Regions from separate parts of the Homo sapiens genome. Here region 2 is linked to region 1. The links come from fine-mapping of genetic effects on gene expression. A gene starts in region 1. The other region holds a variant in brackets. All regions are shown on one strand. Distances are from middle to middle. Region 1 holds the start of SGMS1 (sphingomyelin synthase 1). Region 2 has its middle 27 kb from the start of SGMS1-AS1.

The links.
Region 2: its variant is fine-mapped to the expression of SGMS1 in neutrophils (BLUEPRINT, PIP 0.95).

The regions. Positions count from the first base shown.
Region 1 is chr10:50,617,079-50,629,164 of GRCh38, reverse strand. It overlaps SGMS1 (sphingomyelin synthase 1), which reads left to right and starts at 5,209. Exons shown (of 11, transcript NM_147156.4): 1 at 5,209-5,458. It overlaps SGMS1-AS1 (SGMS1 antisense RNA 1), which reads right to left and starts at 4,214. Exons shown (of 4, transcript NR_126411.1): 1 at 3,974-4,214; 2 at 2,360-2,495; 3 at 1-134. RefSeq lists silencers at 4,042-4,671, 4,796-4,953, 5,002-5,261, 5,522-5,861 and enhancers at 4,812-5,340, 6,052-6,451, 7,002-7,161.
Region 2 is chr10:50,646,384-50,658,469 of GRCh38, reverse strand. It overlaps the pseudogene BEND3P1. Among named protein-coding and RNA genes, the nearest start is that of SGMS1-AS1, 27 kb to the right of the region's middle. RefSeq lists enhancers at 9,423-9,482, 9,693-9,842, 9,863-10,022. The variant G/AG (reference allele first, on the strand shown) is at 6,653.

The DNA of each region.
Region 1 (12,086 bases):
TCAGGGACTTGAGCATCTGAGGATTTTGGTGTCCTCAGGGGTCCTGGAACCAACTCCTCACAGATACTGGGATGACTTTATGACATTGTTTTTCAATCAGTGAATGTTTATACCTTTTGGTTTCCTTGCTACAACTGTGAAGATAAAATTCAAAAGTATTTTTACCAAAGTGTAGCTAATATTTCAAGCTGAAAATAATAGTTCTACTGCCAGTGTCTCCAGAATGTGGAGCCCATTAATATTTTTATTTTAGCTTTACTGAGGTATACTTGACCGCTGATAAACTGCACATATCTAAAGTGTACAGTGTGTTGGCATATGTATACCCTGCGTAAAACTATCACTGCGATCAAGGTGAAAATCAGACCCATCATCCCCAAGTGCCCTTTTGCCCCATTATTAGTTTGCATGTCCTAGAATTCTATGTAAATTGAATCATACAATATGTATCCGTTTTTTGGTCAGCCTTATTTTACTCAGTATAATTATTTTGAGATCCATCCATGTGGTAGCATTTGTCAAGAGTTTTTGTTTTTGTGTTTTTCATTGCTGAGTACCACTTCATTGAACAGATTTGTCCATTGACCTACCGATGAACACTTGGGTTGTTTCCAGTTTGGGGCTGTTATAAATAAAGCTGTTATGAACATTTGTATACAAAAAAAGGTGAAATTGGAGATGGACCTTGAAATATTAGTAAGATTAAGTGGCCAGTGGGAATCTGGGGAAATAGGATTCAACTAGACAAGAGGGTTAATGAATATAGGTAGGGTTGTTCTTGTTACTCTCTGGAAGAGATTAAAAACTTGGGAGCTCTCAAGTGGTCATTTCATGGAACTGAAGGAAAAAAGCCAGAAACCACAGGGAGAGAATAAATAGAAATGCAGAGGAGACAGAGGGAGACTTTCTGGGTTCCTTTCAATACTCCAGTTCCTGGTTTCCATCTCATCCCGAGGCTCAGCTGCATCCCTGATCTACCCTGGTATCTTCAAATAAATTCCAAGTTTTTTGTCAATGAATAGAAGCCAAGCAGTTATTGAAGCCAGGAATCCTAGCCAGGTACACAGGAATGAGCACAGAATGTTGAGTATTATCAGATCTAAGCCTCGGGGCCAATACTTGGAATGACCTTTGTTGTCTTCGACTAGCTTTTTTGGTTAGCCTTGGTTTGGAACCCAGGTTGGCCAGAAGAGTTTAAAGAGCTAAGCAGGGGCTCCTAAGGTCTTGCTCCTGTTATTCAGGCTACGTGGCTCTGGATCACATTGAGACAAATTTCCATGGATAGAAACAAAAGTCTCCTTGCTTCCAGAGCACTATTTGAACTTTGACTACAGGTGGTTGGTAGTGATACCTATAGTATCTCCCATTTAATTCCCCAGTTTAGACTGTGCAGAAGACAAATGGATCTTGAAGAATGACTGTGGAATGTCATAAATGTAATCAGATGGGGACTCCAATTTCAGCTGCTCTCCCAGAAGTAGTACCTTTACTGGGGCAGATTAACACATTGGTATGCACCTGGGGCAGATCTGACATTTGGTATGCACTTATTTACCTGGCTAATGCCTTTTCCTCCATACCAATTTGCAAGGTCCATCAGAAGTGATTTGCTGTTACCCAACAGGGCCAACAATATGTCTTCCCAGTGTTGCCACGGGCTCCATTAGTTCTCTTGCTCACTGCCATAATAGTCTGAAGTGATCTTGATTGTTCTGACATTCCACAAAACATCACACTGGTCCACTCTATTGATGACATTATGTGAGCATCATTGGATCCCATGAGTACGAAGTAGTAAGTACTTTAGATGCCTTAGTAAGATGTATGCTAGAGGGTGAAAGAGACCTACAGAGATTAAGGTGGTGAGAGAAGCCCACCTTCTCAATGGTGAGTGATGGCTACTGCTGAAAGGTCCACTGAATAAAACCACATTTTAAATCAGGTAGTTTACCTTCTAAAGGTAGAAAAGTCATTCATTTGGAACCAAACCACCTACTTCAGAATAGCTGTTTTGGTAAGTGAAGCATTTGCTTCAGTATTTGCTCTTAGTATTATTTTTAACAAGATTTCTAATGACAGATTGTGACTTGGAGGTGATTCACTTTTGTTTCCTAGTTGTCTTGACAGCAACGTAATTCATGATATTCTGAGTACTTGAGAATCCAAAAATTTTACAATCCAACAATATGATGTTTATTAAAATTTTCCTAAGAAATACACTGGTAAGCAAGGCACAGTGGCTCATGCTTGTAATCTCAGCACTTTGGGAAGCGGAGGCCTGTGGATTACTTGAGCTCAGGGGTTCAAGGCCAGTTTGGGCAACATGATGAAACAGCCTCGGCCAAAAATAAAAAATTACCTGGGCATGGTGGCTTGCACCTGTGGTCTCAGATACTCAGGAGGCTGAGGGTGGAGGATCACTGGAGCCCTGTAAGTCAAGGCTGCAGGGAGCTGTGATGGTGCCACTGCACTCCAGCCTGGGTGACAGAGTGACTCTGAAGAAAAAGAAAGGGCACTGATAAAAATTCTTTAGGATTGGATGGACTAAAGAGGGAGAACTATTTTTATTCAATTTTTTTTTTTGGTTACAAATAATAGTGACTTAAGGACCATAACTAAATATAATTTCAAGGAGGGGCAACTCTTAGTGTCTCTTATAACCACTTCACACAGAATTTACTTTTACTGCTATGGTGATTTCTCTTTAGATTTCTTTCTGTATTTATTTACGCTTTTATTTTTTATGTATGGTGTATATATCTATGACTTTTTCTCTCTGATTTTATGAAACTGAAATTAAAGTGGAAATACTTCTATGCCCTGCTTTTTTCCATGTGCTATATATATATCATCCTAAAATTACACATGGAAAAAAATTTAAAAGGATTTTATTATGAAACATTTCAAACATATAGAAAATTTGAAAAAAAAAATTATGCCAGTACCTTAGACACACGATTTACATTCAAGAAGTATTAATATTTTGAAAAATTTAGTTATCTTTCATGTGGGGGTGGGGTGCATTTTAAAGTACATCAAAGACCAGATGCTTACTTGGACCTTTGTTTCAGGAAGTCCAGAGCTTACAGCATATTCTGGATAGCACTGGAGAGAAACCAACACGGGAGAGAAAGCAGCCAGCAGTTTTCTGGCACTCCCTTAGTTTGAAAAAATTTACATCACAAGAAAGCAAGCCTTCCTTTCACCTTTTAGGTGCAAACTGATAAACATAACCAGTAGGGCTACTATACTTCACAGAGCCTTGCTCCCAGTAGATACTCAAAACATGCAGTTGAACTGAATTTCAGTTGTTATTTTAAAGCCGTGCTTGAAAAGCGTATGTGACAAATGTACTTTCCTAATCTTCCTGAGAAGAGCAGTACTGTGTCTTACGGGCGAAAAAACCAGAGGAGCCAGGAGTGGAGGGTGCAATAAAACGCCTGCATTGGGGCAGATTGCCTCATTTTGAATCCCTGACTCCTCACTGTGCTTTGGGGAAAACTATGGAAATTTTCACTGCCTAGCTTATTAAAATGGACTGCTTAGCTGAAATATAGAGGCGTCCATGACAACTACCCGGAGGGCTTTGTTAATCATATTGCAGGACTCCACCCGCAGTTTCTGGTTCTGTAGGTCTAGGTGGGGCCGAAAACGTGCATTTCTAACAAATTCTAGGGTGATAGTGACGCGGCAGGTCCCGAGACAACAGGAAACCCAAGGGACTCGAGGCAGGCGCTCAATAAATATTCACTATGAACCTCAGCACCATCGAAGCGGCCCACCAGCAGGGGCCGCGGGGTATGCGCTGCAGGGAAGAGCACGGCCTCTGTCCAATGTCCCTGCCGGTACATCACTCCTCTGCAGGGACTAGGTTAGAACCGGGAGGCAGCCAGAGCAGCGCTCTCGCTGGATAACGGAAGAGGACTCCCTCGCCAACTTCCGCCTCTGGGGAAAAGCGGGGACCCTCCGCCACCTGAGTTCTGTTGTCTCGATTTCGCCGCAGTTTGCTTCTGGCCCGGGCGAGAACCTGTCCTCTGGGCAAGCCAGGGGTCGGTACAGGACTCCTATACCCCAAGGCGAGGCGGAGGCAGGTGCCGAGCGGTGGCCAGAGTCCGGCGCCCAAAGCCCGATGGGAGGGCGTGGCGGGGGAGGACGGTCCCGCCAGCTCCCAGGTCGGTTCCGAGCGCCCGCGGCCCGATGGCCGGGCGGAAGATGGCTGCCCGGAGCGCCGCGGACAGTCACGTGGTACGCCGGGCCCGTAGCCGCGCCCCTTCCCCCGCTCGCCAAGTCCCCGACCCCGCGGGAGGCACGGCCTCGGGCTGCCTGTAGGCCACCGAGGTGCGGCGCGGGCCGGCCAGGGACGGCGGGCATCGGGGCGGGAAGGCCAGCTCTCCCCGCTGTCCATCCTAACTTGGGCGCTGGGGCTTCGCTCGGGGAGCAGAGGAAAACCTTCCTTCAGGCGACTTGCACCACGTGGGGCTACTGGGCATGCGCGGGCTCCGACCCCGGCCTAGCCGCTCTCCGGGTTTTCGCCGCAGCTCGGAGGGGCGGCGGAAGGTGGGCCCCAGGCGGGGCGGGGCGGCTCTGACGCAGTCGGAGTTTTCACCTCGCGCGGTTAGAGCTCTTGCGCCTCCGTCGCGCTCCCAGGCGTCGCCAGAGGCTTTTTTTTTCTGTTGTGGGAGAAAGATGAGAGTCTATGGTTAGAGGTTTGAAAATGGGCCGAATAGTCAGGTCGGCCGTTTCCTAGGAATGATCCATTGGGCATTAATCCCAAGTGTCGCAGCCCTTGGGCTTGGTGGGAAAAAGAATCCAGTAGTAGTTCGCAAACTCGTGCCTGGCTTCCAGCAGGCTGAGTTTGCGTTCCCTGCTTTGTGACCAGCTCTAGCGGCTCCCGTCTCCGGCCCTGCCCCAAGGGATTTACCGTCCCAGATTGTAAAATCTGGCTCCCGCTAGGCCTTACTTAGTGGGCCCCTAAAAACGCTGGGGAAAGCGCCCGCCTCCTCAGTTTCCCATTACTTGAAAGTAAAATTCAAGGGGCCCAAACTGCGACTGTCCCTTGGTTCGGGGTCCCGCTCGGTCCCGGGAGGAGCCCCCCGCGGACCCCGCCCGGCCGGCCCGCCCCCCCGGCCGCAGTGAACACCCGGAGGAGCGGAGTCGCGTCGCGCGGGAAGCCGGGCCGGCTCGGGCAGCGGACTGGGCATGCTCGGCAGCCCGGGAGGCTCGCGGTGGCAAGTCGAAAGCGTTCGCACCAGCGGGGCAGCGGCTGCGGGCGGCAGGCGGCGGGCAGGTCGGGAGTGAGAAGGACCGGCCTGGGCTGACTGCTCTCCCCTCGCGCCTAGGGAGCCGGTCGGAGAGCGCGATTGGGGTGCGGAGCCCCGACGCTGCCCTGCCCCGGATTTCATTCCGCGGCGGGGGCTCCGCGAGCGGAATTCCGGCGGCTGCCGTGACTCCAGTGCAAGTGAGTCGTGGGGCAGGGACAGACAGCCGGCCTCACGGTTGCGGGGGCCGATCGGACACCTGTCTCGCGGGCCCGGCCTTATGCCGGGGAGCAGCGGGCGGGCTGCTCTGGGGCGAGGGGGCGTGAGCGCAGCCCGCGCGGTGCCGCGCGCGTACCTGGCGGGCAGTCCTCCAGAGCTGCTGCTCCCGTGGGTGGTCACAGCGGGGAGGTCCGGCGGCCGGGATCCGGGCTCGGAGGGGGCGGGCCGCCGGCGGGGCTCCCCGGCTAAGTTGGGGCGGGGAGGAAGGAGGAGGCGTCAGTGGGCACCTTTTCAGAGCTACTGCGTGCGGGCTGGAAGGCTGCCTGGTGTCGGATTGGGGCGATCGGGAGGCGGGGAGCCTTTGGGCAGTAGCCCGCCCGGGGTCCGGAGACCCCCACCCAGGGGCCGACTCCAATCACGGCTCCACCCCCACAGCCTAGGTGGCGGTGTGACAGTTGGTACCTTCGGTCCAGATCGCAGCCGGCCAGGCGCCCACTATTTCGGGATCCCCCCACCGTAGCCCCTCGATGCCCCCTGACGACAAAACAGGTGGGACCCCCCCTCCCCGAGGAGCGCTCCCCTTCTCTCCAGGCCGCGTAACAGCCCGCCAGGCTCGCGGGCGGCTCTGAGACCCCGCAGGGCTGCCCCCGCGGGGCGGGGACGTTTAGGGGCAAGGCCTGGAGGGGAATCGGCGCAGCCCAGAACTGGACAGTCTCTCCAGGACGCCGCTTTTCCGTGACAGAGGGGGTCTGCGCTATCCCCCAGCGACGTGTCAAGGGCAAAACAGCAGCAGCAGCGGCTGCCTCTCCCACCGTCTTAACCCGAACTCGGGCTTGTGGCGTCCTCCCGTGGGCCGGATAGAGTGCCCTAGTCCAGCTAACGGATTCAGCCTGGAGCGTTCTGGTGAATGCTGCTTTCCTCTTTGGTGCCGCGAAGTAGAAATCGGGATAAGGGTTGTCATGGCCGGAGGGAGCGAAGAGAATCCAGGCAGGTGCTTCTCAGATGTTTCTTTTCACCTTCAAACAGTACAGACTTCAGCGGTACACGCTTACGAAACCAAGTGAAGGCTGCTTTCTGAAAGGGAAGTTTATTTTCTATGTTCTGGGGCCTGTCGACTATTTTAGCTCCCTTGACATTTATCTTCCTGGACCTTTAAAGCTGTTTGGACAGGTTATTTTGCTTTTAGGTTTGGGGATGTTTCTAGTTGGCTCCCTGGATGTGGAAGTGGCGAATGTCTGATGTGCTGTGCTGTGAACTCCCCACGCTTCCTGGCACTGGGGGTTGAAACATTCAGGGGGGACTGAGTGGGCCGAAGGAGAGGAGTGGGACTGGTGACGTAGGAACGCGATGGGTGTTGCCTAGAGCTGCCCAGATGGAAAGGGGTTGGCGGCTGTTTTGGCCTGTGCAGAAGGGGAGAGGGCGGGGCGTTTCATTGGTCGGGGTGTGAAACGTCCACGGGCGAAGGCTGCGGGGGATGGGTGCCTGTCTGGTCAGTGCTCCAAGGGAAGCCCAGGGATGTTTGGTGATTCAGCAGGTGGCAGCCTTCCAGCTCTGAAGACATGCCGTGGCCAAGCAAAGAAGCAAGCAAGCAAGCAAGCAGCAGCCTGTGCCTGCTGTCGGAGGCGCCAGCTTTGGGGGAACCTCCAGGTGCTGCCTTCTGCCTGTGGCAGCTCACTTGTCTTATCTTGCTTCCTGTTTAGCTCTGGAGGCCCTGGTATTTCGAGTTTCCTTACTGCGCCTCTTAAAATATACAGCAATATATAGCATGTTTTTGAGTCTCTGCATCTCTGTGACCTGCTGGGTAGCAGTGGGGTGGCTGCTGCCGCCATGCAGTTTTAAGTAGTTACTCTGCAGAAAGTGACAGTGATATGTAAAAACAGTGAAGTGGCCTTTCCTTCCATTTCTGCTTCACAGAATAGAAATTTATGTTTTTAGTAAAATAATAAGATACATTTCTGCAACTCTTCAGTGATGATAGTGAGCTATTTGAAATTTCCGGAAACTTTTTAATAAAAGACATTAACTCCAGAGATGTATTAAATTGACATCAGAGGGACACGGTTATTAAACCAGTATCTTACTCATTGGAAGATTTCTAGCATCTTGCACAGTGTCTAACTTGTATTCAATACATGCCTCTGCAGCTGAAATTTTAAAAATTCTTCATAACAGAAGAGTTTACCAGTATTTACCATGTTCATCATCTATTTTTAAGTCTGTATTAATATGGTTAGAGTAAAATATATGCATCAATACCTTTGCACATTGACATTTAAAGAATATTTATGTTTTCGTAAGACATGATTGCTGGGTTGACCATAAACATTCAATTTTAGCTTGAAAACTTGATTCTTTTACTTTTCTGGTTAAATTTATTAATTTTCAAACTTGGGGCAGATCCTACATTTCAGCTAGAGAAATGGTGTGCTTTGTTAACATACGTCATGAAAACCAAACGGACTCCTGACTCCTAAGTATAGCCATCAGTTTTTTTTTGTTTGTTTTTCTTTTGAGACAGGGTTTTATTCTGTCACCCAGGATGGAGTGCAGTGGTACAATCTCGGCTTACTGTAGCTTTGAACTCTCCAGGCTCAGGGGATTCTCTTACCTCAGCCTCCCGAGTAGCTGGGACTACACGCACGCACCACTAAGCCCAGCTACTTTTTTATAGAGATAGGGTTTTGTTATGTTGCCCAGGCTGGTCCCAAACTCCTGGGCTCAAGTAATCCTCTCACCTTGGCCTCTCAAAGTGCTGCGATTACAGGTGTGAGTCACTGCACCTAGCAGTATTATTATTATTATTTTTAACTAAAAAGTGCTCCTGTTGGATGTCAAATGCTTTAACTTAGAAAACTTCATTTTATACATAACATTTCAGGAAAACTCTGAAAAGTGCTGCTATAGAAAAGCTGAAAGAGTATTTTGGGAATAAAAATTCTGGATTGTTTGCACACAGGCATCAATGCCCTGGTCTTTAGGAGGGAGGCATGAGTGTGCTGCCAGTTCATTCTGCTCTTTACCATCACTGTCTGTTCCTTCCTCCAATTGTTTAGGTATTTCTTCTTCTCCTAAAGATGTACTTTCTTGGCATGAGCTTGCTTTTTAAAGCAATCCTGTCAGAAGAATCTGTTGCATTTTCTCACACAAATTTGATCAATGGTGATTTTTATTTTTTGATTGCCATATACACTTTCCCACCACTTCATATGGCAAACTATTCAGTGGCTCTTGTGTCCTTGTGGGGGCATAACATGTTATAGATGGCTATGCCTTTTTTGGATGGTAGCTATAGCCATAACAGTCTCTTCTGGAGGAACTTTTATGACATGCTGGTCTTCAAGATTTTTGGCTTTCCTATTAAAGGCTTTTGGTCAGGAATATAAATGGCTATTTCTCCTCTCTAAGAGCATCCCTGTAAAGGTTGTTACCTCCATTAAGCTACCCAGTCACAAGAGGACCTTATTTTGGATCAGCCCACTTGGATGTGGGAGTTGGGAGGCAGCATTGGATGTCAGGGAGGAGAGAGTGAAGAAAGGGAAAGAGAAGGGTGGGCGGAGCCCCAGGAAGGTAGCTTGGTTTTATAACTGACTTCTGGATTCAGTAAAGCTGCATTGAATGGTGCTGATGAATAAGTTTGGCTCAGGCCCTGCTGGAATGCTTTGCTGTTCTCCCAGTCCTCCATCTCCACAGATAAACACATCACACACAGATCCACAGACACAGAGACTCACACAGACAGCGAAGAGAAAGACACAGAGAAAGAGACACACACACTCTGCCAAAAGCCAAGAGCACCAGTGTCTTTTTAAACTAATATGTCAAAGGGAAAATCCAGGACTCAGTAGCAGGTTTGATTTTGGGGGCCTGAAATCACCCCAAGCTTGTATTGAGAAAGATTCCCCTCCACTCTCAGTGACAAGCTGATCTACTCCCTTAATGATGTAAAGCCACAAGGGCTTTAACTGAAGCAACCATTATACGTACAGACAGGTGAGTGGAGATTTAGATAATTTGGGTGATTTACCTTTTAGACTCCTGGTGCTGAGAGCTGAGCTCACATTCCAGTTCTTGGCACAGGATCCTCTCACTGTGCAAAAGCCCCTTGCTTGTTTTACGTTTTTCTCCTTCATTCCCCTCCCAGCACCCCCCAGGCCCCTCTCCCCCAGAGGAGCCTTCTTTCCAGTGCAGGATATGTTCTTGCATATGTATGTATTTTGTTAAAGATGTTGAGTTACTTTGTTTGTTTTTGATTTACATAAGTGGTTCTGTGCTATAGATTTCATTCTTTTTTTATTCAACATTAGAGCTTTTTATTATGGAAATTTGCAGGCATTCATAAAAGTCAGAAGAACCTTAACATTTTATTTGTGAGATCCTTGTTAGTGCAGGTTTATCTAGTGCGTTGCCTTGACTGCTGCTTTGTAGGGCTGGTCTTTTATGTGTCTCCTACTTTTACTTACCCATTTCCCTAATGATGGATGCTTAACTCACCTCCACTCCTGCTACCACTAGCAAACATCCTGTATGCATTTTCTTTCTTTTTTTTCTTTTTTTTGAGACAGAGTCTCGGTCTGTCGCCCAGGCAGGTGTGCAGTGGCATGATCTTGGCTCACTGCAGCCTCTGCCTCTTAGGCTCAAGAGACTCTCCTACCTCAGCCTCCTGAGTAGCTGGGTCTGTGTGCATTTTCTTAATGATCTGGTTGAGAATATCCCTAGGGTAGTGGTTCTTAAAGTATGGTCCACACCTGGCAGCATCGGCATCAACTCTGAACTGTTAGAAATACAGATTCTTGGGTCCTAACATTCCAGAATTCCTGAATCAGAAACCCTGAACTGTGTTTCAGCATGCCCAGGTTGGAGATTCTGATACATGGGAAAGTTTGAGAACCGCTGCTCTAAGGGTATGTACTTAGGAGTGGGATGGCTGAGTAATGGTGTACAAACATACCTGTTTTTACTAAACACTGCTAAATTACTCTCCAGAGTTGCTCAGCTGCTTTCTGTTCCACATCAGTGCACAAGGGTTCCTGATTCCCCACGTTCTTACTCAAATTTGTTATTAACCAACTTTCTAGTTTTACCAATGTTTGGTGGCTGTAAAGTGGGATCTCATTGGGTTTTCTTTTTGTGAACTTATATGATTTCTTAGTAAATTTGAACTCTTTTAATATATTCATTAGTGATTATAATTTCTTTGACTAGCCATACTTGCTTTTCCTAATGTGGTGATTTGAAGATTTTTTTGGTATATTCTAGATGTTAATCTCATCCTGTCTTCTGTTTATCAACTTTGTCAATGGTAACTTTGAGAAATTTTTAGTTTTGATATAGCCCCAGTCCATTAATTTTTGCCTTAGGTTGCACTTTAAGAGTATAAGATATTTTTCCTTACCCCAAGATTACAAAGATATTCTGTATTCTGTCAGCTTTCCAGTTTTACCTTTCACATTGAGGGCTTTATTCTATTTGAAGTTCATCTTCATATATGGGAAAACAAAGGAATCTCACATTATTTTTTTCCTTTCCATTCTGTGAGACAGTTTTCCTAAATCATCTATTAAACAGTGTATTCTTTCCTTCATATAGTTTTGTGGAGCCACTTTTATCATACCTCAGATTCCCACAGACACATATTAGTTTACTTTTTCAACTTTATTAAGAGTTATTAAGGCTGAGCGTGGTGGCTCAATGCCTGTAATGCCAGCACTTTGGGAGACTGAGGTGGGAGGATTGTTTGAGTCCAGGAGTTCAAGACCAGCCTGGGCAACATGGAGAGACCCTGTCTCTACAAAAAAAAAAAAAAAAATTAAGCCAGGGCCAGGTGCAGTGGCTCACACCTGTAATCCCAGCATTTTGGGAGGCTGAAGCAGGTGGATTGCTTGAGCCCAGGAATTCAAGAACAGAGAACAGCCTGGTCAAAACCCTGTCTGAACAAAAAATACAAAAATTAGCCTGGCTAATTGGTATAGTCCTAGCTACTCGGGAGACTGAGGTGGGAGGATTGCTTGAGCTCAGGAGGCGGAGTTTGCAGTGAGCCCAGATTGCACCACTGCACTCCATCCTGGGTGACAGAGTGAGACCCTGTCTCATAAATAAATAAATACATAAATAAAAATAAGAGTTGTAACTTATATAGGTAAACTAAATCCATTCAAAGTGTACAGCTTGATTACTTTTGACAGATGTACATACCTGTGAAACCATCACAGTGAAGATACAGAGCATTTCCATCACCCCAAAATTGCCCTTGGGCCCCTTTGTAATCCCTTTGTCCCCAGACTTAAGCAACCACTGATATGCTGTCACTGTAGTTTAGTTTGTGTTTTCTAGAATTTTATGTAAATGGACCATACAGTATAGTACCATTTTGTGTCTGGTTCCTTTCATTCAACATACTGATTTTTAAAAATCTTTTTAAATTATGATAAAATACACATAACATAAAATTTATCATTTAACCATTTTAAGTGTATAATTCAGTGGCATCAAGTACATTTACATTGTTGTCACCACTATGCATTTCCAGAACATTTTTTATCACCCCAAACTGAAACTGTCCCCATTACTTGCGACATACTGATACCAATCATCTGTCTGTTTTTATGCCCC
Region 2 (12,086 bases), 29 kb before region 1:
TGACCTTGTGCAAGATGCCATACAGAGGCTTCTTGTAGTAAGGGGTGGTGGCATGGTTGCGGGGCTCCTCCTTGCCTGCCCACACAGAGCCTGAGCTCCTGCCTTGCCAGCCTGCTCTCCATTGCCTTGGCAGGGCGAGCTGTTCTTGGGTTCCACATGCCTGCTAGGAGCGCCTCTGGGATCAGCTACCTCCTCTCCACACTGGGGATGGAGTCTGGCTGGCCATTGCTGACCAGCTGAGTCCTTGAGGGCAGTAAAGACGCTGTCCAGAGGGTGCTTCTCAGAAGTCCTGGAATTCACGGAGCAGCCTAGAGCAGCATCTTTGGCCTCTGTCTCCACTCTCACTTCTTAGAAGTTCTTCTACATCAATTTTTTTTGGAGATGGTTCTGACTCTGTCACCCAGGCTGGAGTGCAGCAGTTGATCAGAGCTCACTGCATCCTTGACCTCCCAGACTCAAAAGAGCCTAGCTACTTAGGAGTAGCTAGGACTACAGGCCACGGCCACCATGCCTGGCTAATCTTTTAAATTTTTTGTAGAGGCAGAGGTCTCTCACTGTGTTGCCCAGACAAGTCTCAAATTCTCGGGCTCAAGTGGTCCTCCCAAAGTGCTGGGATTAATGGCGTGAGACACCGTACCTGGCCATATTTTTTTTTTTTTTCAAAAAATTCATTTGTAGAGTTTAAAAAGTATCTTTCGATCAAGAGTTCTTATTGTATTTATGTTTGCAAATTTCATTTCCCATTCTGTTGCTTGCCTTTTCACTCAGTGAGTTATTTTATGATTACAAATCCCTATTTTTTATGTTATTTTATTACTATTTATTAACCTATTTATCTTATTTACTAGCCTTCAATAGTTACTTTTTGAGTCTTTTTTTAAATCTTAAGGTCATAGAAGTGTCCTCTGTATTACTTTTTAAAAACTGTACTGTTTTATGTTACACATTGGCTTCTATATGAAATAATTTTTGTGTATGTTGTGAGGTTGGATGTTAATATTCATTTTTCTCTGTACCGATGTATGAAAGACACCACAATTTATTGAAAATGAATCTTTTCCTCATTGTACTGAAGCACTATTTTTTTCACAAATCAGCTAAATATATTGTGTGGTTCTCTTTATGAGCTCTCTATTCTGTTTCATTGAAATATCTATACTTGCACCTTTTCCATAATGTCATAATTGATATACATTTATAAAAACTTTATATCTAATAGTGTAAGTCTTCACATTATATTTTTTCTTCAAAGTTATCTATACACTGCATTTTCATTTGCATTTTATAGTCAGTTTTTCAGTTGCCACCAAATATAATGCAGACAAATTATGCTATTACTAATCACAGTATTGTGATTTTCAGTGTATTACAAATATAGATTTATTTAAAATACTGAATCTTTCTTCTAATACCAAGAATGACATAGGAACATGGTACACCTTTATTTCTGTTGAATATCTTTAATTTCTCTCAGTAAAATCTCACAATTTTCAGTAAAGGGATTGCATATGCTATGTTATATTTTATATTAGGAATTCAATGTTTCTTCCTGGAAACATTTCAGATTTTTAATATTTTATTTGATTTAGACTCACTATATTTGGAAAGCTTTAATTGTAATTTTATTTTTAATAGATATAGAGCTATTCGGATTTGCTATTTATTCTTGTGTCACTGTTAATGATTTTCTAGAAATGTATCTATTTCATCAAATTATGTCAAAATTTTTGACTTAAAGTTACTTATTACATTCTCTTTTTCTATCCCATGACTATAGAATCTATAATGATTTCCTTGTTATTATTGATGATATTTAGAATTTGTGGATACTCTTTTTTTTTTTAATTTCACGCATAATCATGGTATATTTTTATCAGTCTTTTCAAAGTAACTTTGGCTTTTGCTGATTTCATTTATTTTATGATTGTTTCCTTTTCTCATGCTTCTTATGTATCTTCTCTTTTCTAATTCTTTGGATTTAATTTGACATCACATTTTAAATTTTTGAGATTGACAATTAGATTATTAATTTTCAAGCTTTAATTTTTTAAACAAGCATATGCATTTATCTCCAAGCTGAGGTTTGCCTAAGCCTCCCATCTTTTAACAAGCAGTATTTTTACTTTCATTTTTATTAAATTCAAAATATATTTTAATATTCATTGTAATTACTTTTTTGATGCATGAATAACTTAGAAATGTGATGCTTAATTTCTAAACATTTGGTTACTTTCAAAGTCTTGCTATAGATTTGCAGCTTAATAACATTGTTGTACAAAAAAACACTGTCAAGGATTTCAAATTTTTGGTATTTATTGATTCTTGTTATGGGCCTAACCTCAGCCTATATCTGTCTATCTAACCTATCTATCTATCTATCTACCTACCTATCTATCTATCTATCTATCATCTATCTACCTAGATAGACAGAGATATCTATAGATAGCTATGGTAAATTTTGAAACACGTTCCAAATACATTATAATAAATTGTGTGTTTTGCTATTTTTGGGTGCAGTTTTTATATCAAAGTATTTAATCCTACTGCTTTAAATTTTTGTATTATTATTGATATTTTGTATCCTTTTTGCTATCAGTTATTGAAAAAGGTATATTAAAGTCTTTATGATCAAAGATGCGGCTATTGCTCCTTTTAGTTCTATAAAAATTGTAAATGTGTGTTAACTCTGTGTGAGTGAATATACATACACAAGTTTGACAACTTCCTCAATAGTTGATTCTTTTATATGGATGATGGATACATCTTCCTTTCAGGTAATAATTTCTGCCTTAAAATCTCTTTTGTCTGATATTAACATAGCTAAACAAATTTTCATTTGGCTTGTGTTTGATTACCTTTTATATGCATATATGAAAGGTTTTTAAATTAAGATAGTTCTATAGATAGAAGATAGAAGATATATAGATAGAAGATGGTAGATATCTTCTACAGATATAGATATGTATATGTATTTATATACATATATAGGTATATTAATATTTATATGTCTATATCTGTATACAAATATATATATGCAGATATCTATACATGTATATCTATATAAATATCTACATGCCGATATATATATCTATGTGTGTATATGATATCTATGTCAATGATGTAGGAAGAGTATTATGTCCAATATTTACCAGGAGTCATTTCAGATAAGCAAGAGGGTTCTGGTATACATTTTCTCTTCCTACTCACTAAGGATCTACCAAAGCAAATCATTTGTAGAACAAGGAAAGTTATAAAATTCTCTCTCTCTCTTTTTTTCTTAAGAAAACTGGGGAAAGCCCTTAGACTAGCTTGGCTAGGAGGATGGTTTCTGTTCATATATTTTCTGGTCTGGTTTTCTCTTCTGTCATTCATGGTTTTTGATTATTATATTCTAGGTCATTGACTCCTGGCCAATCATTTCGCAGTTGTGGGAAGGTCTCCATTGCTACCTATTCCAAGTTCACTCTATCCATGGTATCTTGTCTTTCATGCGTATGCTCTGTGAAATTTTGGCTTCTGGTTCTTCACCCCCATGGAACAGGTTCTGCTTTCCTTTCACTGTGTTCTCCTCAACTACTCCCTGTGCTGCTCAGCACTGTCTGTGCACCTTCTTCTGGGGCTGCTTGTCGCAAGAGGGGTTAATCCTTCTAGTGTTTGGAATTGGGGTTTGGAATCACTTCCAGATTGAGAGTGAGATGAAAAATAAAATATGTTGTGTACTAGGCAGAGGAAGTAATGGTACTTCCTGGAGGTGAGATGACATAAGGGTAGGGAACACTGGGATGCACTGCCCAGATGTCTCTTCAGGAAAGACTTATTCTCCTTTAGGAAAGACCAAGTCTCCTGAGGACTTACTTTCCTTGCTGCTAGATGATAGCTCTCTGGGTCACTTCCGTTGGGGCATTGCCTTAGTTGCAGATAGACTCTTTGCCTGAGGTCACAGCCCCTGCCTTAGTTGCAGATAGACTCTTTGCCTGAGGTCACAGCCCCTGCTGGAGGCCCACAGCCAGTGGCTGATCGACAAGAGGTATGAAGGTTGAGACCTCTCTTGTCCCCAGTCAAGTCACCTTGGAAGGGTTATCTTATTTTTAGAACTCCCTGAAGGATCGCCTGAGGCTTTGAGGCTGTGCTGCAGTTCAACTACTAGCTCTGCTCCATCCTGCTTTCTTTCCATGGGTGTTGACCACATGGGAACACCCTAATAAACCTCCTACACATTGGTCTCCATCTTGGAGTTGGCTCTCCAGGGAGTTCAATGCTGTGTTATGGTGTTACACACCATCACTGATTTTTTTTCAACCATCTCCCAGCAATCTTGGCATGTTCTTTTATTCAAATTGTTCTCCCAACATTTTCCCCCATGAGAGCCACAAAAAAATGGAGGATCTGGGCAGATAATTAAGGAAGGCACTCAGGCATTAGGTTAAACAGGCAAAGTTCACTAAGGGAACTGAGGGTTGAGTATGGGAAGTGCGTTCAGTAAGAATCTGCTAGAACCAGGGTAAAGGCAAGGGCTGAATCAGCAATAGATTAGCATTGAGTGTGGAGCTTGTTACACATCTTCTGGCTAAGAACAGGTTTAGCCTCAGAGTCTGCGGAGCCAGAAAGGAGAAAGAGGAAAGAGGAAAAGGTCGGAGGAGGGAAATTTGGAGCTTAGAGGTCAACAGGTTAGAAATAGAGACAGGAAACTAGGCAAGTGATAACACACACACACACACACACACACACACACACACACACACTGTATTTGGGAAAAGAACTGAGCTTAAGGAGGACTACACCCTTGAAATAGCTTCCCCTTTCAAGGTTCTTCTCTGCAAAATTAAAGACGACCTTTTTTATTAAAAACCTCCTGACAGAGATTCCTCACATTCATTCTCCTAACATACATTATACACGGGGAACAAAGCTGCAGGAAACATAATGGAAACAAGAAATATAAATAGCTAATCTATATTTATGAGCACAGGAAGGAAGTGTCAGCCAGTGTCAGGAAACAAGAAGGGGGATGTTAGGGTCCAGAAAAGGAGCAGGTAGAGGAGGCTGCTGACTTTGCTTAGTTCCATCAGGGTTGGAGAATTTGCATTTTGAGTGGGTCCAGCAGATGGTGCTGCTCCAGTAGAGAGCAGGAAAATCGTTTTGTATGTTTACAATTCTGAACGAATATGATTTGTAAAATTCCAACCCTATCTCCTCAGACATTAATATATGTACAGACACTAGTGTTTACAGCAAATCCTAATCTTGGTTTCATCAACTATCTGGGTCATTCTTATTTCGTATAGTAGCAATGCTATTGACAAGTTTCATGATCTTCTCTTGCCAGTTCCTCCCAGGATGATGGGATTTGGAGTCAATCCTGCAGTAATTGCTGGCACTATCACCTGCTGTCTTGTGTGCTTGCGTGATAGTGCATCTGAAAAACATCTTCAGAAATGCACTGTTAATGCTTTGTCTGTTTCTATAAATATACTAAGGTTTAAGTATATACCTAATTGTATATAAGAGCCATAGTAATATGAATAATATTACACAGGCAGGAAATAAGTCAATAAGTCATTAAAAGGTCATTGTCTTAGTGTGCTAGGGCTGCCATAACAAAATACTATAGATGGAGTAACGTAAACAATAGACATTTATTTTTTTTCATGGTTCTTGAAGCTGGAAAGTCCAAGAGCAAGGTCTGGCAGCAGTGTCAGGTGAGGACTCTTTCCCTGGCTTGCAGATGGCTGCCTTCTCACTGTGTTCTCAAAGGGTGGGAAGAGATCTCTCTCTCTCTCTCTATCCCCTTCTCTTTCTGTCTTCCTCTTTCTCCCCTATCCTGCCTCGCTCTCTGACACTTCTTACAAGATTACCAATCCTATCAAATTAGAGCCTTACTCTTATGACTTATTTAAATCTTAATGGCCTCTTAAAGGCCCTATCTCCAAATGCAGTCACCTTGGGAATTAGGGTTTCAACACATGAATTTTAACAGGACACAATTCAGTCCATTGAAATTGCTAAATATAAAAGGACTAAAAACGTAGCTGTGCCGGTAGTGGTAAAATGTGGGAACCAACACATATTTTCATCAGACGCAATACTCATTATCCTTGACTCTAATCCTAAATTGTGAGAAAATAAATTTCTGTTTATTTTTAGAAATGACTGAGAATTTCCAGCCACCAGGTAGTTTCCAAAATGTTTCTTTTTCCTTTTTTGTTTGCTTCCAATTTTTTAAAAATTTCATACCTACAGAGAAGTTGAAAGAATAAACATCCATATGTAGACTCACCACCAACTGTTCACATTTGGCCACATTATCTTACTTCTCAATCACAGGCTTTCAGCTTGGAATGTAACTTAAAGGATGTTTGAGTCAACTTTCATTCTATACACAATCTCAGTACAAGGGGTCATTGGCCTCTAAGATCTCTGGTGATGAGGAACTCAGCTATCTTTGAGTTAGCTGCTTGTGTTTTTTAGAGGCCTCTGGTTGTCACTAAGTTTGTGCTTAAACTGAAACCTGGCCCTCTATAACTTCCACCAGCCGGGCTTTATATAACCCTTCAGCTAGACAAACACTAATTCTAGTTCCTTTCTTATACGATAGCTTTGTAATGTTTGAAGGCAGTACACATGTCCCCTTCTTTAGTTTGAAAAAAAAAAA[G/AG]ACTAGCTAGCTGTGATTCCTTCATCCATGCCTTATTTGGAGTGGTAAGAAGTCTTTACTTGCTTGAGTAGTAGGGTCACATATTTACAAAGCACCACTGAAATTCTATAAGACAATGAGGCTTCTTGATTTGCTCTAATGGATGCAATCTTTCTTTACTCACTCCAGTTGGCCCAGTCTCTTTGGGGTTTGTGGAAATCAGGAGTCCCCCAGGACAACCCTCAGGTTCAATAATTGATAGAACTCACTGAAAACTGTTATACTCGCAGTTATGGTTTATTACAGTGAAAAGTAAGAAATGAAAATCAGCAAAGGGAAGAGGCATGATGGGGCAGGGTCCAGGAGAGTTGCAAGTGCAAGCTTCTAGTTGTCCTATCACAGTGGAACTCTAGACAGTGCTAATTCCTCCCAGCAATGATGTTGGGCAATACGCACAGAGTATTGCCAGCCAGGGAAACTCACTTGGGCCTTGGTGTCCAGAGTTTTTAACTGGGGCTTGGTTACATAGATATGGTTGACTACCAGTAGATATGGTTGACCACCCATTGACCACCTTAGCTTCCAGCCTTCCAGAGGTTGGGTTGATATTGCAAGGCCTAAAGCCCCACCATAATCACATTATTAGCATAGACTATCTGGCATGGTCTTAGGCTGCCAGGTAACCCCATCTTATCAGGCAGGACATTACAAAGGCTTAAAATACTCTCAGAAGCAAAGGCCTAACTTCTCTTTGTGCAAAGTTCATTCTTTTCCACACAGGGTAGATTAGCTATCTTTCCAATATCCCCTTTGTTCATTCCCTACTTCTCTACCAGATGGTGTTTGGGCATGTGGATCCCACTGTAGGGGGAGATGAGCCTTGATATGAGTGCAGGGCCTATCCTATCTCCTGCCTCTGCTCTGAAGTGGCTGATCCAGTCAGGTTCCCACAGCCTTACAGTGGTCTTCCCCAAGTGCAGTGTTGTTCCTAGGCTCAGTTAGACCCACCCTACCTTACATTTGCCAGGACTGCAGATGCCACCGAGTTCAGCCAGGTCCTCTCTCTAGCCCCTGGCCTTGACGTTAGTGTTATCTCACCCCTAACTACAGAGGCTCCATTATAGCAGGTCCTGAAGCTGCCAATTCTGTTACCTACCTTGTCTGGTTCTACAGGGGGAGTCTGGGAACTTCTGGAGCCCTTCTATGCCTTTTAAGAGGAAAGGCAAGTTTAGGAGTGGGAACACAGGCCCTCTTTCTGTGGAACCATGCCTCTCTGCCGCCTTCCTTGTTCTGTGGTAGCACCAGGTTGGTGTAAGCCATTCTACACCACAGTCTCTTCTCAGAGTTCTGAGCTAGGACTGGGGCACAAGCCCCCTCTGCTTTTGCATCTGGCTCTCCCCCAGTTTATGTACCATATCCTCTTCTTTCCTCTTCCAGACTGTGGCCCGGAGGAGGCAAGCCAGGACACAAGTGTCTGCCCACTTGCTTTTGCTACAATTTGCCTTCTGTTATTTTTCCCACAATCCACCAGGCCAACAGGAAGAACTGCTTCTATATCAGGTTTTCCTCTATCCCCAATAAGGAGGTATTTAGGCTATATTAGTTGAATAGTAGAACCAGATATAAAGAAGGGGATAGAATGGCTGGGCATGATGGCTCACAACTGTAATCCCGGCACTTACGGAGGCCGAAGCGGGCAGATCACTTGAGGCCAGGAGTTTGAGACCAGCCTGGCCAATATGGCAAAATCCTGTCTCTACTAAAAATACAAAAATTAGCTGGGCGTGGTGGTGCATGCCGCAATCCCAGCTACTCTGGAGGCAGAAGAATTGCTTGAACCCAGGAGGTGGAGTTTGCAGTTTTCTAAAGGGAAAGAAAACTATTAATATTTTCAAAATATTATCTCTATTATGCTTGTATAAAGAGTTCAGTAGCAATGAAAACCTGACCCATGGAAAATAGGAAAACTTCTTCCCTTTTCCCTCTTTCCCTTCTTGCCATCTTTCTTAAAGCCCATAGACTTCACAAATAACTTAGCAACTAAAAGGTCGTAGTTTTGGAAATGGAAGGCAGGTCATGTGATTCACTGGAATTTTAATTTTCATGGTAATGATAATAGCTGCCATTTATTTGAACTCTATGTACCAAGTATTGTGCTGAATTAATTTAATTTAATTTAATTAATTTAATTCTCCCCAAAGCGCTATTACTATACCATTACCCCCATTTAGCAGATGAGAAAACAGGCTCAGAGAAGTTAAGTAATTTTCCAAAATCCTATAGCTGGCACTGGAATTTAAAGCCAGTACCATTAGACTACAGGGTCCATGCACTGATTGACTACCCCTCCTAAACTGCCTTTTGATGAGGGATTCATATTTCTGTTTTCTTTGTAATTGCCACATAAGGCATTCAATAAAACACTACTTTATGCTCAGCTGCACTCAGTTTTGCAAGCTTCCAAGGATCCCTTGGTGATAAAGGAGTAATGTGGCACTTAAAACCTGGTCTGATATTGGCATGCACCCTAAAAATGCTGCTGGTATTACTGAGGGAACCAGCCGCTTGGGACTCTTACCTTCCTAATCGCTTCTTAAGGGAACTTGTAATGAATCTAATTGGAAGCATCTACTTAATTCCCTACAAGATAATATCACATAAACCAGAGCAAGAAAGGTGTTAAAATCAATAAATGAGAGAGAAAGAACTGAAAATATAGAGCTAAGGATAGGAGGGCAGGCAGGGCATTGTATATTTGTAGCTCAGGAGAAAAGTCTGGGGCACTTTTTGATAACTGCTGTATGTGCAAAAAAATGTGTTTGGGTGTGGGAACTATGAGGACGTATGTTCCTTTAGACATCTGATAATCTAAACTATGGTAATTTCTGTGGGTATCAGTGAAAAATCTGTGCTGCTGATCTGTTCAAAGTGCAGCACTATGGGCAGATTTCAGATCATACTGAGAATTGAGGCCGTGTGACTGTGATCAAGATTGTACTGGAGCCATCATTTGGTTATTCATTTACCCATTACGGAGTTGAGCTGGGGCTGGGCACGGTGGCACACACCAGCAATCCCACCACTTTCGGAGGCAGAAGTGGGAGGATTGCTTGAGCCCAGGAGTTTAAGACCAGCCTGGGCAACATAACAACCCTGTCTCTACAAAAAAATATTTTAAAAAATTGGGCTGGGTGTAGTAGCTCACGCCTGTAATCCCAGCACTTTGGGAGGCAAAGGTGGGTGGATCACTTGAGGTCAGGAGTTCAAGACCAGCCTGGCCAACATGGGGGAAACCCCATCTCTAGTAAAAATACAAAAAAATTAGCCACGCATGGTGGAGCACACCTGTAGTCCTAGCTACCCAGGAAGCTGAGGCACAAGAATCACTTGAACTTGTGAAGCAGAGGTTGCAGTGAGCCAAGATCAAGCCACTGCATTCCAGCCTGGGCAACAGAGTGAAACTCTGTCTAAAAAGAAAAAAAAAATTTAGCCAGGCATGGTGCCTGCCTGTGGTCCCGTCTACTCAGGAGGCTGAGGTAGGAGGATAGCTTGAGCCCAGGATGTCAAGGCCACAGTGAGCTGTGATTGCACCATTGTACTCTGGCCTGGGAGATGGAATGAGACTCTGCTTCTTTTTTTCTTTTTTTTTTTCTCCTTTTATGGGTAGGACTTGGGTGGGTGGAGATGATATGATGGGGATGGACATTAGAGGGGAAGTCATTAGTGAGCAGAGAGCTAAAGATGGGAAAACGCGGTGTGTGTTCCGGGGTATGGAGAGTTATTTTCTCCAGCTAGACTTTCAGAAGAAGGAAAGAAAGAGAGACAAAACCAGAAGAGCTGAACAGGATCAAATTGTGTAAAATGATGACTGCTAGGACCCCAGGACCAGTGCTCAGTGTGAACCACAGTGGCACTGGGAGGGCCTGGGAGTAGGAAAATCAGTGAGGAGGCTCTGAGCTTGGGTGGGGCAGAAAGGGTAACTTTTTTATGTTTGCTGCTTCCGAGGCTGCAGTAACAATACAGTCCCTCAGTCACCTCTTCCCTCATGGTTGTTCCCACTGTGTGTCTTGCTGGTTTCTCCTCTTGGTAAACCTCCACCATCCCCCGGAGTTGTATCTTTTGTCTTCCTCTCCTCCCCAACCATCTCCCTTCATTACATATCTTAAAAATGTCTTTTATTTTTATTTATTTATTTTTTGATATGGGGTCTCACTCTGCTGCCCAGGCTGGAGTGCAGTGGTGCAATCATAGCTTACTGCAGCCTCACCCTCCAAGCCCAAACAATCCTCCTACCTCAGCCTCCCAAATAGCTGGGACTCCAGGGGCACACTACCACACCCAGCTAATGTCCTTTTTTATTATTTTTATTTTTAGTAGAGACAGGGTCTTACTATGTTGCCCAGGCTGGTTTCAAACTCCTGGGCTCAAGCAATCCATCTGCCTCAGCTTCCCAAAGTGCTGGGATTACAGAAATGAGCCACAACACCCAGCAAAAAATGTCTTTTAGCAGTTTGGTTTTAGCTCACATTTCTGGGGAAATGGTCCTCAACGTCTCCTCCAGGGAGCAATGTTATCAGGTTGGTAGTGGCAGCTGCCAGACTGCAAAGAGTAAAAAAGGAGGCTCTGAATTAGAGGCAATGACCATGCTGAAAGGAGAAGAGAATAAGATAGGCTTTTATTTTTTTTTCTCTTTTTTTTTTTTTTTTTTTTTTTTTGAGGCGGAGTCTCACTCTGTCACCTAGGTTGGAAAATGCAGTGGCGTGATCTCAGCTCACTGCAACCTCCACCTCCCAGGGTCAAGTGATTCTCGTGCCTCAGCCTCCCAAGTAGCTGAGATTACAAGCATGCACCACGATGCCTGGCTAACTTTTTGTATTTTTAGAAGAGACAGGGTTTCACCATGTTGGCCAGGCTGGTCTTGAACCCCTGACCTCAGGTGATTGGACTGCCTTGGCCTCCCAGAATGTGGGGATTACAGATGAAGATAGGCTTTTAAATCCTGGGGTCAGCAGTCTTGGAAGAAGCCAAGTCTGGAGAGAAGCTATGGGGTATTACAAAGAAGTTATTCATGTACAAAGTTAGGAAAAGGGCAGCAAGAGTTAACATTTATTAAAGCTCAGGTTAAAAGGATAGTGTTTTAGTTCATTTTCTGTAGCTTATAACAGAATAGCTGAGAATGGGCAATTTATAAAGAAAAAGAATTTATTTCTTATAGTTACGGAGGCTGAGAAGTCCAAGATTGAGGGACACCAACTGGTGAGGGCCTTCTTGCTGGTGAGGACTCTGTGCAGAGTCCCCCTTTGGCAAAGGGCATTACATGGCAAGGGGGCTGAGTGTGCTAGCTTGGGTCTCTCTTCCTCTTCTTATAAGGCCACGAGTCCCACTTCCATGATCATCCATAGTCCATAAACCCATTAAGCCATTAATCCATTAATGGTAGACCCCTCACAACCCA